Linked DNA regions of Homo sapiens: region 2 is linked to region 1. Evidence: fine-mapped expression QTL. Tissue or cell type: esophagus muscle. Region 1 holds a variant in brackets; the other region holds the start of a gene. All regions are shown on one strand. Distances are from middle to middle.

Region 1 (7,295 bases):
ATTTGAGAACCAGTCAACATAATGTATTATTTTAACTATAGTCACTTCCACATGATTTCTTTAGTCCAGTGCTCTTGCTGTATTCCCCACCAATGTGATCTGCACCATCGTCCATCTAATCGCCAAAACTACAAATAGGGAAGTTACTCTCCATTCTCCTTGACTATGTCCAGATAGTCAAGCTATGAAATGCTAACGTTCTACCCCAGAATGTCTCTCCATGCTGACTCCCTCTTCTCCATACAGCCCCACTGCTCTAGTTCTACCCTTTATTATTTATTTTCCTCTGCCATTGCAGTAGACCCTTACTTGCCCCTCAGCTTTGAGTTCATGCACCCTTCCAATCATCTTCCAAAAGGATGCAAGAATGGCTTCTCTAAAATTCAAATTTGTGACATCACATCCCACGTTAAAGTCTTCACTGACTTTAAGGTGAAATCTGTACTCCTTAAACAAGGTCCTTAGCAGTCTGCCCTTGTCTCTTTCTCTTGTCTCATCTCTAATACTTAAACCCCTGGCATTTTTTCAGTGTTGTTTTTCTTCTGTGTATGTTATGTTCTTCCATACTTCTGTACCTTTACCTAAGCTATTCCTTCCATCCTGTTCCCTTCACATCTCTACTGCTACCCCTTCCTTACGTGACTCCTTTCTTTTTATCCTTTAAGATTGAACTCAAAAGTCTCATCCTCTGAGGATTTATAGAAACACACGGGGCCCCTAAAATTGAAGGAAAAATAGGGAGCCAGGTCAGATACCTTTCTCCTATGCATATTCCCCTGGTATCCTGTATATACCATTGTTGGAGTTCTTACTGCAGTGTAGTTGCAGTACTTCTCAGTCTTCTCCACAGAAGTGCACCCAATGTCAGAGGAAATTGTATTATGCTTACAGCCTGCCTGAAACCCTAAATTAATGACATCAATTATCTTAGTTTTAAGAAATGTAGAAAACTAACATTTCCATAGAATAGGTTTATGTCATTTAACAAAAAAAAAATTTTTTTAATTAGCTGGGCATGGCGACCCATGCCTGTAATCTCATTACTTTGGGAGGCTGAGGTGAGAGGATCACTTGATCTTAGGAGTTTGGGACCAGCTGGGCAACATAGGGAGACCCTGTCTCTACAAAAAATAAAAAAAAAATTAGCCGGGCATGGTTGCACACACCTGTTTATTATCCCAGGTACTCAGGAGGCTGAGATGGGAGAATCACTTGAGCCTGGGAGATTGGGACTACAGTGAGTTGTGATCGTGCCACTGCACTCCAGCCTGGGTGATAGAGCAAGATCCTGCCTCAAAAATCAAAACAAAACAAATGGAACATTTAAAATTATTTGTTCTGGGCCGGGCGCGGTGGTTCATGCCTGTAATCCCAGCACTTTGGGAGGCCGAGGCAGGTGGATCACCTGAGGTCAGGAGTTTGAGACCAGCCTGACCAATATGGTGAGACCCTGTCTCTACTAAAAATACAAAACTAGCCGCACGTGGTGGCACATGCCTGTAATCCCAGATACTTGGGAGGCTGAGACAGGAAAATCACTTGAACCCAGGAAGACGAGGTTGCAGTGAGCCAAGATCGCGCCATTGCACTCCAGCCTGGGCAACAAGAGTGAAACTCCATCTGAAAAATTAAAAAATTAAAATAAAATAAAATATTTGTCCTGGAATAAAATTGATCTTTGTTAAATATGATTATGTTTATCCTGAAATTTCAGGTGTTTGCTGTACACTGCCCTATTTGTTCTCTATAAGTTTGTATTAACCAACTGCGATAAATAGTAAGCACTTTGATGGCAGGGACTAAGTCTATTATTACCTCTGTATTTCTAGCATTAAAACAATATCTAACACATAGTAGATGTTCAATATGTATTGAAAAAAATAATTGCATGAAAGTTCTCTATTGGAATGATAGTGTTAAATGCCAGTGTTGTGAACATTTTAAAATTTTAAATCATTTTTCTCATAGGAAAAGCTTGACTGATGATATCATGAAAGTCATGCATGTTTTAAAATGGCTTTCTGGCTTATACAATATAACAGAATCTTTTTTTACTTTATATAGTTAAAAGTACAAAATACACAGAAAAGAATCCTATATTATAAGTATTCAGCTCAGTACAATGTTACACACACAACATGCTTGCATAATAAACACCCATACCAACAAACAGAAATTCACCTGCCCTCAGAAGCCCCTCCATACTCTGTCAGGTCATTGCAGCCCTTTTTAACAGGATAGGTTAGTTTTGCAAAATCATTTTACACTTGAATAGTATTTAAGACAAGTAATGTTGAATAGAAAATATTCTGTGACAAATCAGGTTAATGATTTAATATTCATTATTAGCAGCCAACATTATTTGTAGGCCAGGTGTAGTGGCTTATACCTTTAATCCCAGCACTTCGGGAGGCCAACATGGGAGGATGGCTTGAGGCCAGGAGTTCAAGACCAGTTTGAGCAACATAGCAAGACTAAATAGCCATACTTTTGTATACTATTCAGCACAAAAATGTTAATAATAAGAATTAAATAATACTCATTTTAGCTTTTGTGTTCATTTACAATGAGCAATATATTCTTTTTAAAATTTTTGATGTGTAATAATTATACATATTTAGGGATACAGACTGACATTTTGGCTCATGTATACAATGTAATGATCAAATCAGGGTAATTAGCATATCTCTTGCCTCAAACACTTATTTATTAATTTTGGGAATATTCAAAATCCTCTCTTCTAGCTATTTGAAAATATAAAAAAAAAAAAATTATTGCCAGGCGTGGTGGCTCACACCTGTAATCCCAGCACTTGTGGGAGGCCGAGGCAGGTAGATCACGAGGTCAGGAGATCAAGACCATCCTGGTTAACACAGTGGAACCCCATCTCTACTAAAAATACAAAAAATTAGCCCAGCGTGGTGTGGGTGCCTGTAGTCCCAGCTACTCGGGAGGCCGAGGCAGGAGAATGACATGAACCCGGGAGGCGGAGCTTGCAGTGAGCCGAGATCGTGCCACTGCACTCCAGCCTGGGCGACAGCAAGACTCTGTCTCAAAAAAAAAAAAGAAAATTATTGACTATAGTCACCATACAATGCTACAGAACACTAGAACTTACTCATCTTATCTAGTTGTAGCTTTGCATCTGTTAACCAACCTCTCCCTATCTTCCCCTCCTCCATACTCTTTTCATTTTCTAATAATCACAATTCTACTCTCTACTTCTATGAGCTCAACTTTTTTAGCTTCCACATATGAGTGAGAACATGTGGTATTTATCTTTCTGTCCCAGACTTATTTCACTTAACATAATGTCCTTTAGGCTCATCCATGTTGCCATGAATCATAGGATTTCATTCTTTTTATGGCTGAATTTGTGTGTGTGTGTGTATGTGTGTGTGTGTGTGTGTGTGTGTGTGTATACCACATTTCTTTATTCATGTTGATGACACTTAGGTTGATTTCATATCTTGGTTATTGTGAATAGTGCTGAATTAAACATGGGAATGCAGCTATCTCTTTGTTATATCGATTTCCTTTCCTTTGGATAAATATCTGGTAGTGGGATTGCTGAATCATATGGTAGTTCTACTTTTAGTTTTTTGAGGAACCTCCGTACAGTTTTCCATAAAGGCTATACTAATTGACATTCCCACCAACAGTGTATAAGAATTCCCTTTTTTCTGCATCCACACCAGCATTTTTTATTTTTTGTCTTGTTAGTAATAGCCATTCTGAGTGAATTGTTACTTTTAAGCTCTTATCTCTAACAATCAAATTACTATAACAGATTTTTGTTTCACTTTCATTTGTTTAGATTAGTAGTTCTCAATGTGGAAGGACCTGATTTAATCTCCCAAAGAATATTTGGCAGTGTCTGGAGACATTTTTGGTTGTCTTAACCCACCAAAAACAGTTGTCAGTGCTACTGACATCTAGTGTTACCCACTACTGGGTTGCTGTGAAAATTAGTTTTCAGAACAGAGCCCCATAAAAATGAATTATCTAGCTTAAAATGTCAACAGTGCCAAGGTTGAGAGTAGTGTTTTTTAAAGAATGGGTAGGTTGTTTATGTTTGATGGAAGTTAGTTTAAATAGATTGTAGCACCTTACTAATGGAGTCCATGATATCAGAAATTTAATTCCCATAGACGCTAGTTAACCTGTCTGTAGTTCATGCACTCCAGACCTCAGCCAGATGTCTTAAACATTTCTGCTGCAGATTATAAGAAGAA[C/G]AAGATGAGAAAATGTAGATGGGTTGGTATAAATCTATCACTACTTCTGGAAAAATGTCTCAATATGATATTTTTTACTTAACCCAAGTCTATCTCTCACCACATGACTAGTTCTCACTACGTTGGAATCAGCTTGTAAACTTTGACTAGCAGCATTGTTTAATCTTGTTATAAGTTCCTGAATTAATGGTCTACAGGCTTGAGGCAGAGTGAATGCCTCAAAGTTATGGGCAGGCAGTTATCTAGTACCAACCATAGTCTCCTGCCATCTATTGGGAGGTGTCAGGTGGGAAGGCTAGTAGCCCTCTACACATATTCATACCCACACCCCAGCTCTATTTTTTTTTTTTGAGTAATTATAGGAGGTCAGAAACACTAGAATGTACATACATGCTGGTAATAAATGGAAATTAATATCTGATAGTTTTCTTCATGGCTGTCTTTCAGGGCATAGTTTTCCATGTATTTTGCTGTCCTCTTGTGAGAATACTACCCTTGACAAGTTGATCTACATTTAAGCTATGGCCACATTTAAACTATGGCCCTAAAACATTTGTTGTTATGCAAGAAAGAATTAATGGTGATATATACCAATTCTGACTCTCACATAAAGTGTTTCTCCAAAAGTAACCTCAGACAACATAACAACAAACCAAGATTTATATAGTTGGAATTGCAAATCCGTAAGTCCTTAAACTTAATGAGAAGATTAATTTGGAATTTGACCATTTGACTCTGCTCATTTAACTTTGAAAGCAGATATAAATAAAAACCTTGTATGAAGAAAATTGCTTGGGATAATTTGCATTAAACAGTCTGTTTTTTGCTAAGTGGCTTATTTGTATTATGGAAGCATAGCCTTATTAGTATTTTTAGTCTTCCTAAGAAGAAATGGAATACATCATAGAGCTCTAGGCCTTCTTTAGTTTTCAGTACAAATTTGGTATATTTGGTGTTTGGGAGGATATACATGGCATAAGGTAAAGAGAGCATTAGCTTTCACGTCAGATCCAGGTCCAGATTCTGCCACTTATAAACTGTTACACCTTGGACCACCTAGCTATTATGGGCCTGCTTTAGCACCGGAAAGAAGGGAGAATACCTAAATATGATGAGAGAATAAGTAGGTAAAATAATCATGTAAAAGAATGGTCAGGAGGAGTCTGGCCTCTGGCTCTGTCATTTATTATTGTCTGTGCCCATGGGCCGGCTGCAACTATTTGATTGACCTAAAATGGGATGGTGACTTGCCCGAGGTCATACAGTGAGTCAGGGCAGAGCAGCTGAAGCTTTACTCTCTAAGTCTCATTTTCCTTCCCTGTAAAATTGTTGTATTGGTGACTGTCTCACAGCATGTTGTAAGGAGAGATGGAGATCATAATTGTAAGAGGTAGCCCACAGTGCTGGCACAGTGTAAGCACCAATAAATGAAGGTAATGAGTACAATAAAATGTGTCACTTAGCCCCTTTCCCCAAATAGTTTATCCATCTGGTTGATGAGAGCCATACACTGTATGCTAAGACTTAAAAATGTGGGAGTTGATTAAGTTCTAGTACTGCATTATACTAATAATGCTAGTGCATAGTTTAAAGAATAATAAAATACCATAATGCAAAGTTTGTTTAAGCCCTTTACCCTTTTTTTCCTACATTGGGGCTTTATTTTTAGAGCACTTCACAAATTATGCAGAGAAAAGAGGGGTAGGCAAGAATGGAAGCAGAGAGAGCAGTGTGAAGGTAGTACAGTAGGGAGTTATGACAGATGCTTAGGTTAGGGTGATAGCAGAGGTGGTGGTGAGACTATTAAAAGACTACTCAGCCAGGCATGGTGGCTCACGCGTATTATCCCAACACTCTGGGAGGTCGAAGTGGGAATATCGCTTCAGCTCAAGAGCTCAAGACCAGCCTGGGCAACAAAGTGAGACCATGTCTCTACAGAAAATACAAAAATTAGCCAGTGTGATGGCGTGCGCCTATAGTTCCAGCTACTTGGGAGGCAGAGACAGAAGGGTTACTTGAGCCCAGAAGGTTGAGGCTACAGTGAGCTATGATCATGCCACTGCATTCCAGTTTGGGCAACAGAGCAAGACCCTGTCTCAAAGAAAAAAAGAAAGAAAAGACTACTCAAGGCTTGAGATTTGATAAAATAGTTCATTTTACTGCTTCATTGAGGATATTCTTAAAGGAAACTGGCATTTTTTTTCACAGTGAGTACATGGTGGAGAAGAATACAACTAATACTGAATTTTAAAATGTGCTATTTCTAGTAACCAGCCTTCATCTTCTTCCCCTTTGGCTGCAGATCCTAATTATCTCATGGCTAATGAACGCATGAACCTCATGAACATGGCCAAGCTGAGTATCAAGGGCTTGATTGAATCAGCTCTGAACCTGGGGAGGACTCTTGACTCTGACTATGCACCTCTCCAGCAATTCTTTGTGGTGATGGAGCACTGTCTGAAACATGGCTTGAAAGGTAGGCCATCACCCCAAAATGCAAATATGCATGCAGCTGTTTTCTAGCAATGCATACTATAGAAGAAAGCATTCTTTGTGGAGCCAAAGAATAAGAGGCTTGAATTAATAATATTAATCCATTGGAATGCAGTCTTTTATAGGAGCAGGGTTATGGTTGACTCAATGGACTTATAGGGCTTTAAAAATACAGATCATTAAATGTTACAGTTGGAGGGGCCATTATAAGTAATCAAGTACAGTACAGTAGTTCTGTTTGACAGGTGGAAATAGGCCTGCCCAGAATGAGACATGACTTGGTCAAGGTCACACATTGAGTTGTGGCAGAGTAGGTGCTAGAACTCAGGTCTCCCGACTCTTGGGTCAGTGTTCTTTCCACTTAACTATAAGCTTTTGAGGGCAGTAACTGGTCTTGTTCACCCTTGTTTCCTTTCTTCTTGCCTTCTCAATATTCTTTTCTTGTTGTTTTTTGTTTGATTGTTTTTTTTAAATCTGTATGCCTATGCTTACCAACTTCCCAATATTCCATAGCCTATTTCTGGATTACATATTCTTTTCTATTGAGCTGTTTTCTTCATTAATACC
Region 2 (7,295 bases), 38 kb before region 1:
TTTGTAAAGCACCTAACAGAAAATAGAAATTTAATAAATGATAGCTATTTTAGGTAATTTTTCCACAATATATAACAGAGACATTGAGCCTGTCAAGTTAACCTTTGTCTTATAGTAGCAGCCGAGTACAAATATCCTTTAAGAGGAATGTAACTTCTGACTTTGAAGTGTGACTCTTATTTGCTTTGAATCCATCATAATGTGGAAAATACAGACTGTTTAAGCAGCTAGAACGTAGTATTTTTTGGATCTTCATTTTGGATTTGAACTTCACACAGGCCTATTCTTTTAGGGCCACAGACTGAACTCCCACCCGCCTCACAACCATCTTACAAATAGGTGCCATTACTCACAAATGGGATCAAATGAGAAAATAGTTCAATACAGCTCATACAGTAATTACTCTGTATGTGAGAAAAAAAATCAAGGTTTGAATATCTTACTGATGGCTTAACTTTAACTTCATATTCAAAGCTAAGATGTTTACTTAGTAAAGACCAAAATGTAAAAACGGTACTAAGCAATATCTAAAATCTTTTTTTTTTTTCTTTGAGACGGAGTTTCACAGGCTGGAGTGCAGTGGTGCAATCTCACCTCACTGCAACCCCCGCCTCCCAGGTTCAAGCGATTCTCCTGCCTCAGCCTCCAGAGTAGCAGATTACAGGCATGTGCCACCACGCCCAGCTAATTTTGTATTTTTAGTAAAGATGGCGTTTCTCCATGTTGGTCAGGCTGGTCTTGAACTCCCGACTTCAGGTGACCCGCCTGCCTCAGCCTCCCACAGTACTGGGATGACAGGCATGAGCCACCGTGCCCGGCCGTAGAATTGTTTTTATAAGTTTCTACAAATAGCACTGTTTTCATAGTAACTTCTTTGCCTGTGAACAATGGATAACTGTTCGTGCTGAAGACTCAATGGTGTTTACCTAAAGAACAGCGTAGAAGTACAGTTTTTCTTGCCCACCCCCGGGTCTTATTTCTGAAATGGCTGCCAACACCTCAAACTGGTAGATCTGGGAAATTCAAGGATACCAATACAGGCATGTTTTTCTTTCCTTGCCAAAAACTTTAGTTGTTTTGGGCTTGCCTCTCTGTGTCCTCTACCTGGAGAGAGGCAGGGTGGGATGGATCTTCCGAAGGAATGTTAATCAAGTTTCTTGCTCACTAACCTTGATGTTCCTGTTGTGTTGGTATGTTGCAATCAATCTAGATCTGTTCAAGTTAGTAAATGCTTACTGGGGTGAAGAGATTGTTGTGGTTTGTGACAAGGCCAAATTCAGGTTTTGGACCCCAGACAATCACATGGCATTCGGATTTATTCATGTATTCCTTGTTCTGTTTTAAGAACATATCAGTGATCTAGAGTTTTGATATCACACATACAGATAGCTAGGGCTGTTTGGAGTTGTGGTTCCAGGAATGTCCCATGTAATTTGAAGGTTTTAATGACTACTTACTATGTTTTGAAGTATTGCATGATATAAAGTGAATCTATAAACTGTCCCCTTATTAATATATAATATGGGAATATTTTTGGCTAGAAAGGAATTGAACTGAATTAAATGAGAATGTGTTAAATGAAGGCTTGTGTTCAGTATTTGGATATGAAAATTCTGTTTCCTGGAAAAGGTGTTTCTGTCTTACTGCTGCGTGCCTAGTGCCTGGATCACTACCTGGCATGTGGAGCACCTCTTAGTGAATATCTGTTGAATGAATGAATGAATGAATGGCTCTGAGTCTAGATGTAGGGTAATGATGAGAGAGAATGAGATAGAAATAAAACCAGGAGTATTTTGCTTTCCTTAGTAACTTACTGATTTTCCCCAATTATAAATAAGCCTATATATATGCCTTCTTACATTGTACCAGTATACCCTCCTTCTTTTTTTTATTTTGAGACAGGGTAGAGTGCAGTGGTATGATCTCGGCTCACTGCAGCCTCTGCCTCCTGGCCTCACGTGATTCTTCCACCTCAGTCTCCCAAGTAGCTAGGACCACATGTGCGCGCAACCATACCTTGCTAATTTTTGTTTTTGTAGAGATGGAGTTTTGCCATGTTGCCCAGGCTGGTTTCAAACTCCTGAGCTCAAGCCATTCACCTGCCTCAGCCTCCCAAAGTGCTGGGATTACAGGCACATGCCACCACATCTGACTAATTTTTGTATTTTTAGTAGAGATGAGGTTTCACCATGTTGGCCAGGCTGGTCTCGAACTCCTGACCTCAGGTGATTTGCCCGCCTTGGCCTCCCAAAGTGCTGGTATTATAGGCATGAGCCACCGCGCCCAGCCATCCGCCCTGTCTTCGTAACAATATGAAAATGCCAGTTTCTCTACAGAATTTGATTATTAGCATTTTTTTCTTTCAGTTCAGTCTCAAATTATGATGAAGCATTTGAGATTTTAACAATATTCAAGGAGAATTTTTTTAGTTTTCAGAAATTAGGTAAATCAAGATGTCCCTCTGATAACAATCCCTAGAAAGGAATAGTCTCAGGTCATATTTCTTGAATTTGTATGTTCCTCCTTAAAATTGGAACCCTTCAATACAAAAACAAACAAACACTTTCTTTCAATTGTCCAAAACATTTTCAAAGAAAATTCTTATTCTTCTCTTTGTAATTTATGTAGTTCATAAAGCAAGTACCTGCCCTTTTGCTACCAAGGTATAAATGCCTCATTGGATAATATAGGGCCGTGTGTGTGTGTGTGTGTGTGTGTGTGTGTGTGTGTGTGTGTGTGTATTAAGAAAATATAATTGTCTTCAGTATCTTATCGAATGGGAGGATTTTAAAAATATAACATGGTTTAATCTGCTTAGAAACATATTTCATGCTTAAGGCTGGGCATGGTGGCTCACGCCTGTAATCCCAGCACTTTGGGAGGCTGAGGTGGGAGGATCATGAGGTCAGAAGTTCAAGACCAGCCTGGCCAAGATGGTGAAACCCCGTCTCTACTAAAAATACAAAAATTAGCTGGGCGTGGTGGTGGGTGCCTGTAATCCCAGCTACTCGGGAGGCTGAGGCAGAGAATTGCTTGGACCTGGGAGCTGAGATCACGCCACTGCACTCCAGCCTGGGCTACAGAGCAAGACTCTGTCTCAAAAAAGAAAAAAGAAAAAAAAAGAAACGTATTTTATGCTTAATACAGAAACTTGATAAATACAACAAAATCAAAAAGGGGGGAAATTGCCATTAATTGGGAAAGATTTTACTTTTTTAACTTGAAGTTTTTTTTTTGCATTTCTGCCTAACCTAAAAGGTCAGGTTTTTGTACCTTGGAGAAGGAAATTATAAATGCCCAAGAATAAGATATTTAAATTGAAAATCTACTTTAGCTTTTCTTTTTATCTTTTTGTTTTTTTTCCCTCTGAGAACCTCAATTTTTTATGCTTTAGCTTTTCTTAAAACATAACATTTAGCATAGTAAAGAATTTTAATAGCTATGTAGATAAGAATGAAAGAGGTGAATTATATGCTTGTTAAATTAATCTAACTGCCTCTTTTACCATCTTTACTATAGATTATTATCCGGTATTAATTGTCATCCTTTTATTCAGTCCTTGATCCCAAAGTAAGAAGAATTGATGAGGATATGTGCATTGTGTTATGTCTGATCACAGTTTGACTAGCACAGTCTGGAAGTGGGTTGTACAGGATGAGAGAGAGAAGCCTAATTGCTCTCCCAGCATCAGCAGCATCTATAAAGCATCCTGGGAATTGCTTGCCCTACGTTCAGAGCAGCTGGTCACATGAGCCTGAATTTTCAGTTCAGTTCATTAGTCAGCCATTTTGGTCAACACCCTGCTTACTGCGCACGGCCAATCCTATGAGAACTCAGCATCCCAGCTCATCTGAGCAGATCCTGGAAGTGATTTCTGCAGCTCAGGATTTTTTTTTTAAGCTACATTGAAAATATAGGTTTATTTTTTGTTCAGGTTTTTCTTTTATATTTTTTTTCTGCACAAAGGAGGAGGATTTTTCACTTACTCATATCGAGGCCAGATTTTTAAAGCCAGCTAAGGCAGCATCAGCTGTGCGGGATTTAAAGCCTATAGCTCAGCTGAAAAAAAAGGTGGGGGGCAGGGAAGGGAAGATAAAAGGAGAGGAAGCTGGGAGAAGACAAGCATCATCTTATTTTGCTATGTGGTAGGAACTGTCTATAAGATAGTGTAGAATTGTTTATCTTGAGCAGTTTGTTCTTAACCTATAAGGTATTTTTCCTTTTTTTTTTTTTTAAACCTCCCCCACCCTTTTCCTGAAAGCTTTGTTTCAGAGCTTTGTATTGGGTTTTTTTGGTGAGGAGGTTGTATTTATTTTTTTGGTGTGTGTGTGTGAGTGTGTGTGTGTCTGTGTGTGTGTTGTGGTCCCAGCTGAGTCATCATGTCTGCTCTGACGCCTCCGACCGATATGCCAACCCCCACCACTGACAAGATCACACAGGCTGCCATGGAGACCATCTACCTTTGCAAATTCCGAGTGTCCATGGATGGAGAATGGCTCTGCCTGCGAGAGCTGGATGACATCTCACTTACACCTGACCCAGAGCCTACCCATGAAGGTATGGTCAGATCCTGTCCGCTAGTATTTCACCAGCATCCTCATTGTTATGGGGGAGGGCTGGGAGGATCAGGGAGAGGTAGAAAGAACCTACACTCTCAACTGTTAACAGTCCTGAAAACCTTGCATCCTTACTTACCACCCAGCTCCCCTTCTCTTGCTCATGGGGGAAAGATAATTTTTTTTCTTGCCCCTTTAGGTATCCTTTCAAAAGATGCTGGATACTCGTTTAGAGTTCTTTGTCTTTAAGCCTCTAAATAAAACATTTGAGGTCACTTATCACATCTGATTCTATTCAATAATGAGAAAGCTATTAATTTTGTTCATATATGAAAATGTTATAGAAATTGTAGTGATTTATAACACTAAGTTAAGACAACATGACTATAATTATAGGATTGTACATGATGAATACAGTAGAAACACCAGGGTATTTGGTAATGGTATCCTCACCATTATATGAGGATACAATTTTAAGCAAGTTATGACATCTAGGAAATGTTTGATAAAACATTTTTTTAACAATATGGATTATTAGGTTAGATGAGAAAATAACTTTTCAGCATTTATTTATTGAATATGGACTCCTAAGAAAGCATAATGCCTGGAAAGGTTAAATATGATTAATATGGCATCCCTATAGATTACAATAGAATGGTAATATTGGAATCTATTGGCCATTGCTTTTTATAAATTATTTGTGGTAACTATTATGATCCATTTGAGATTTCCACTGTCAGTACCTCTGAGATCTTTGTGGTCTCTTGACTTGCGACTTTTTTCCAGGACTCTTGCTAATTTATGAGAGGTTTTCTGCTTCTACCCTTTAATTCTCTTAATACCACAGAAAGAGAGCTGATTTGAATCATAGCTACAAATCGTTTTGTTTTTAATACAGTTGCTTCTTAGCTAAGGTTTATTCTCTGTCCTTATACTGATGAAAAAAAACAAAAAACGCTTGCATATGAGGAGAAATTCTTTATAAACATCTGCCTGATAGTTAGGCACATCGACAGGACAAAGAAGACCATAGGTGAATTGTACCTAGCAGATGGGGTTAGGAAAGGTGATTCTCTGCCTTTGACCTTGAGTTGAAATCTTATCATGACTCAGAATTTTCCCATTGTGTTTGATAAGCATTTTATCTTCCCAGTCAGCCTTAGCCTTGAGAAAGTTTTAGGGATGGTTAATAACACAGAACACAAAGCAGTCATTTTGGGTGTGTCTTTAAGAACAATGTTTAAGTGGTTTTTAAGACCCTTTGCATCTTTTAACAATTGGTTTGTTAATTAGACAGCTTTCTTTGGCTGTATGTTTCGTTATGTGCACAAGTTATAAGACATCAGCTGAAATTCCATGCAATGCCAGTACTATTTATTTTTTATTATTATTTTATTCTATATTTTCATCAAAACATCGTTACATCCAACAATTCCAGTACTACTTAAAACAGCCTCCAAAGCTTTAAAAGTCTTTAGGGAAGAAAAATACAGTTTTAGAAGGCTACCAAGAAGTCTTCTGGCAACTGCCTCAGTTTACATATTTTGTTTGAAAAAAATGTATTCCCGTCCAATTTGAGAGTTATACAATATGAAATATTCCCTTTATCATGAAATCTAGTTTACCAGTGTCTCAAAAATAATTTTTAACAATTTTAACACCTCAAATATATGTTTTTGGAGCAGGATTCCTATGGATAAGCAAAAGTGAGCTGTTTGGTTCATGTAAGCGTTTTTAGCAGCGCCATTTGAATTCTTCATAGAGAAATCTGTAGCAACACATTTCTCAGTATGGAAAATGTGTGAGAGCTATAATCTAAGTAATAAATTGTATGTCTGCTGATTAAAGAAATCAGATAAATACAGAGTTTCCAAGACCTGTAATCAACTATAGAGGATTTGGAAGAAAATAGAGAAATGCCGACAGTGCATTTTAGAATTTTGCCTTAAATTGGGCAAGAAAGCTATTATTTTAAATTACTAGAAATGAAAATAAAGAAAGCATAGTCCCATGAAAGCCTGTGAGTATTACTGCCTTGCTCCATTACCAAACTCTGGATATTTAAACAGTCATTTGGTCCCAAGAAATACCCACTTTTATGTTAATACCACTGATAGTTATTAGATTTAATTTAGCTATAAGCATTTAAGTGGTGGTCACCAGGCCCATGATTATGTGAATCTCACCTTGTTCACAAAATGGAACTCCTGATGTCTGGACGCGGGAGTATTCAGACTGCTTTCCGGGCTGATTCACAGAGGGAAAAACATCTGACCACCCAAATCCTAGAGTGAAGTCTCCTCACTCCCACAAAAGAAAATAGGCAAACAGCATAATGTTCCCTCTTAAAATGATGTAGACTGACTGTGTGTACTCAGCAATAGAGGCTCTGTGGCTTCCATATTTTATTTTCTTAAAACCAGAGTTCCTGGCCCTTCACTGAGCAGTCCGCAGTATAGGCCTGGACCTAGAGTTTCTGCCTACTTTAACCCTTAAATAAATGAAAATAAAAGCATTCACTTCATTATCTCAATGCTTATTGGTGGTCAATGAGGGATTATCTCTCTTTTGTCTTATATACTCTTTTTTTTTTTTTTGAGACAGAGTTTTGTTCTTATTGCCCAGGCTGGAGTGCAATGGCGCAATCTTGGCTCACTGAAAACTCTGCCTACCGGGTTCAAGCGATTCTCCTGCCTCAGCCTCCCAAATAGCTGGGATTACAGGCATGCGCCACCACAC

Which allele goes with the higher level. Positions count from the first base shown, and alleles are read on the strand shown. Sizes are in standard deviations (SD) of each study's normalised expression.
For the expression in esophagus muscle of the gene that starts at base 3,770 in region 2, allele G in region 1 goes with a lower level than allele C (moderate effect, 0.57 SD a copy in GTEx).

Evidence for each region. PIP is the estimated chance that this variant, and not a neighbour inherited with it, causes the effect.
Region 2: it holds the start of RUFY3, and the variant in region 1 is fine-mapped to the expression of RUFY3 in esophagus muscle (GTEx, PIP 0.94).

Annotation. Positions count from the first base shown.
Region 1 is chr4:70,755,982-70,763,276 of GRCh38, forward strand. It overlaps RUFY3 (RUN and FYVE domain containing 3), which reads left to right. Exons shown (of 18, transcript NM_001037442.4): 2 at 6,538-6,711. Among named protein-coding and RNA genes, the nearest start is that of RUFY3, 38 kb to the left of the region's middle. The variant C/G (reference allele first, on the strand shown) is at 4,236.
Region 2 is chr4:70,718,195-70,725,489 of GRCh38, forward strand. It overlaps RUFY3 (RUN and FYVE domain containing 3), which reads left to right and starts at 3,770. Exons shown (of 18, transcript NM_001037442.4): 1 at 3,770-4,557. The coding sequence starts at 4,380.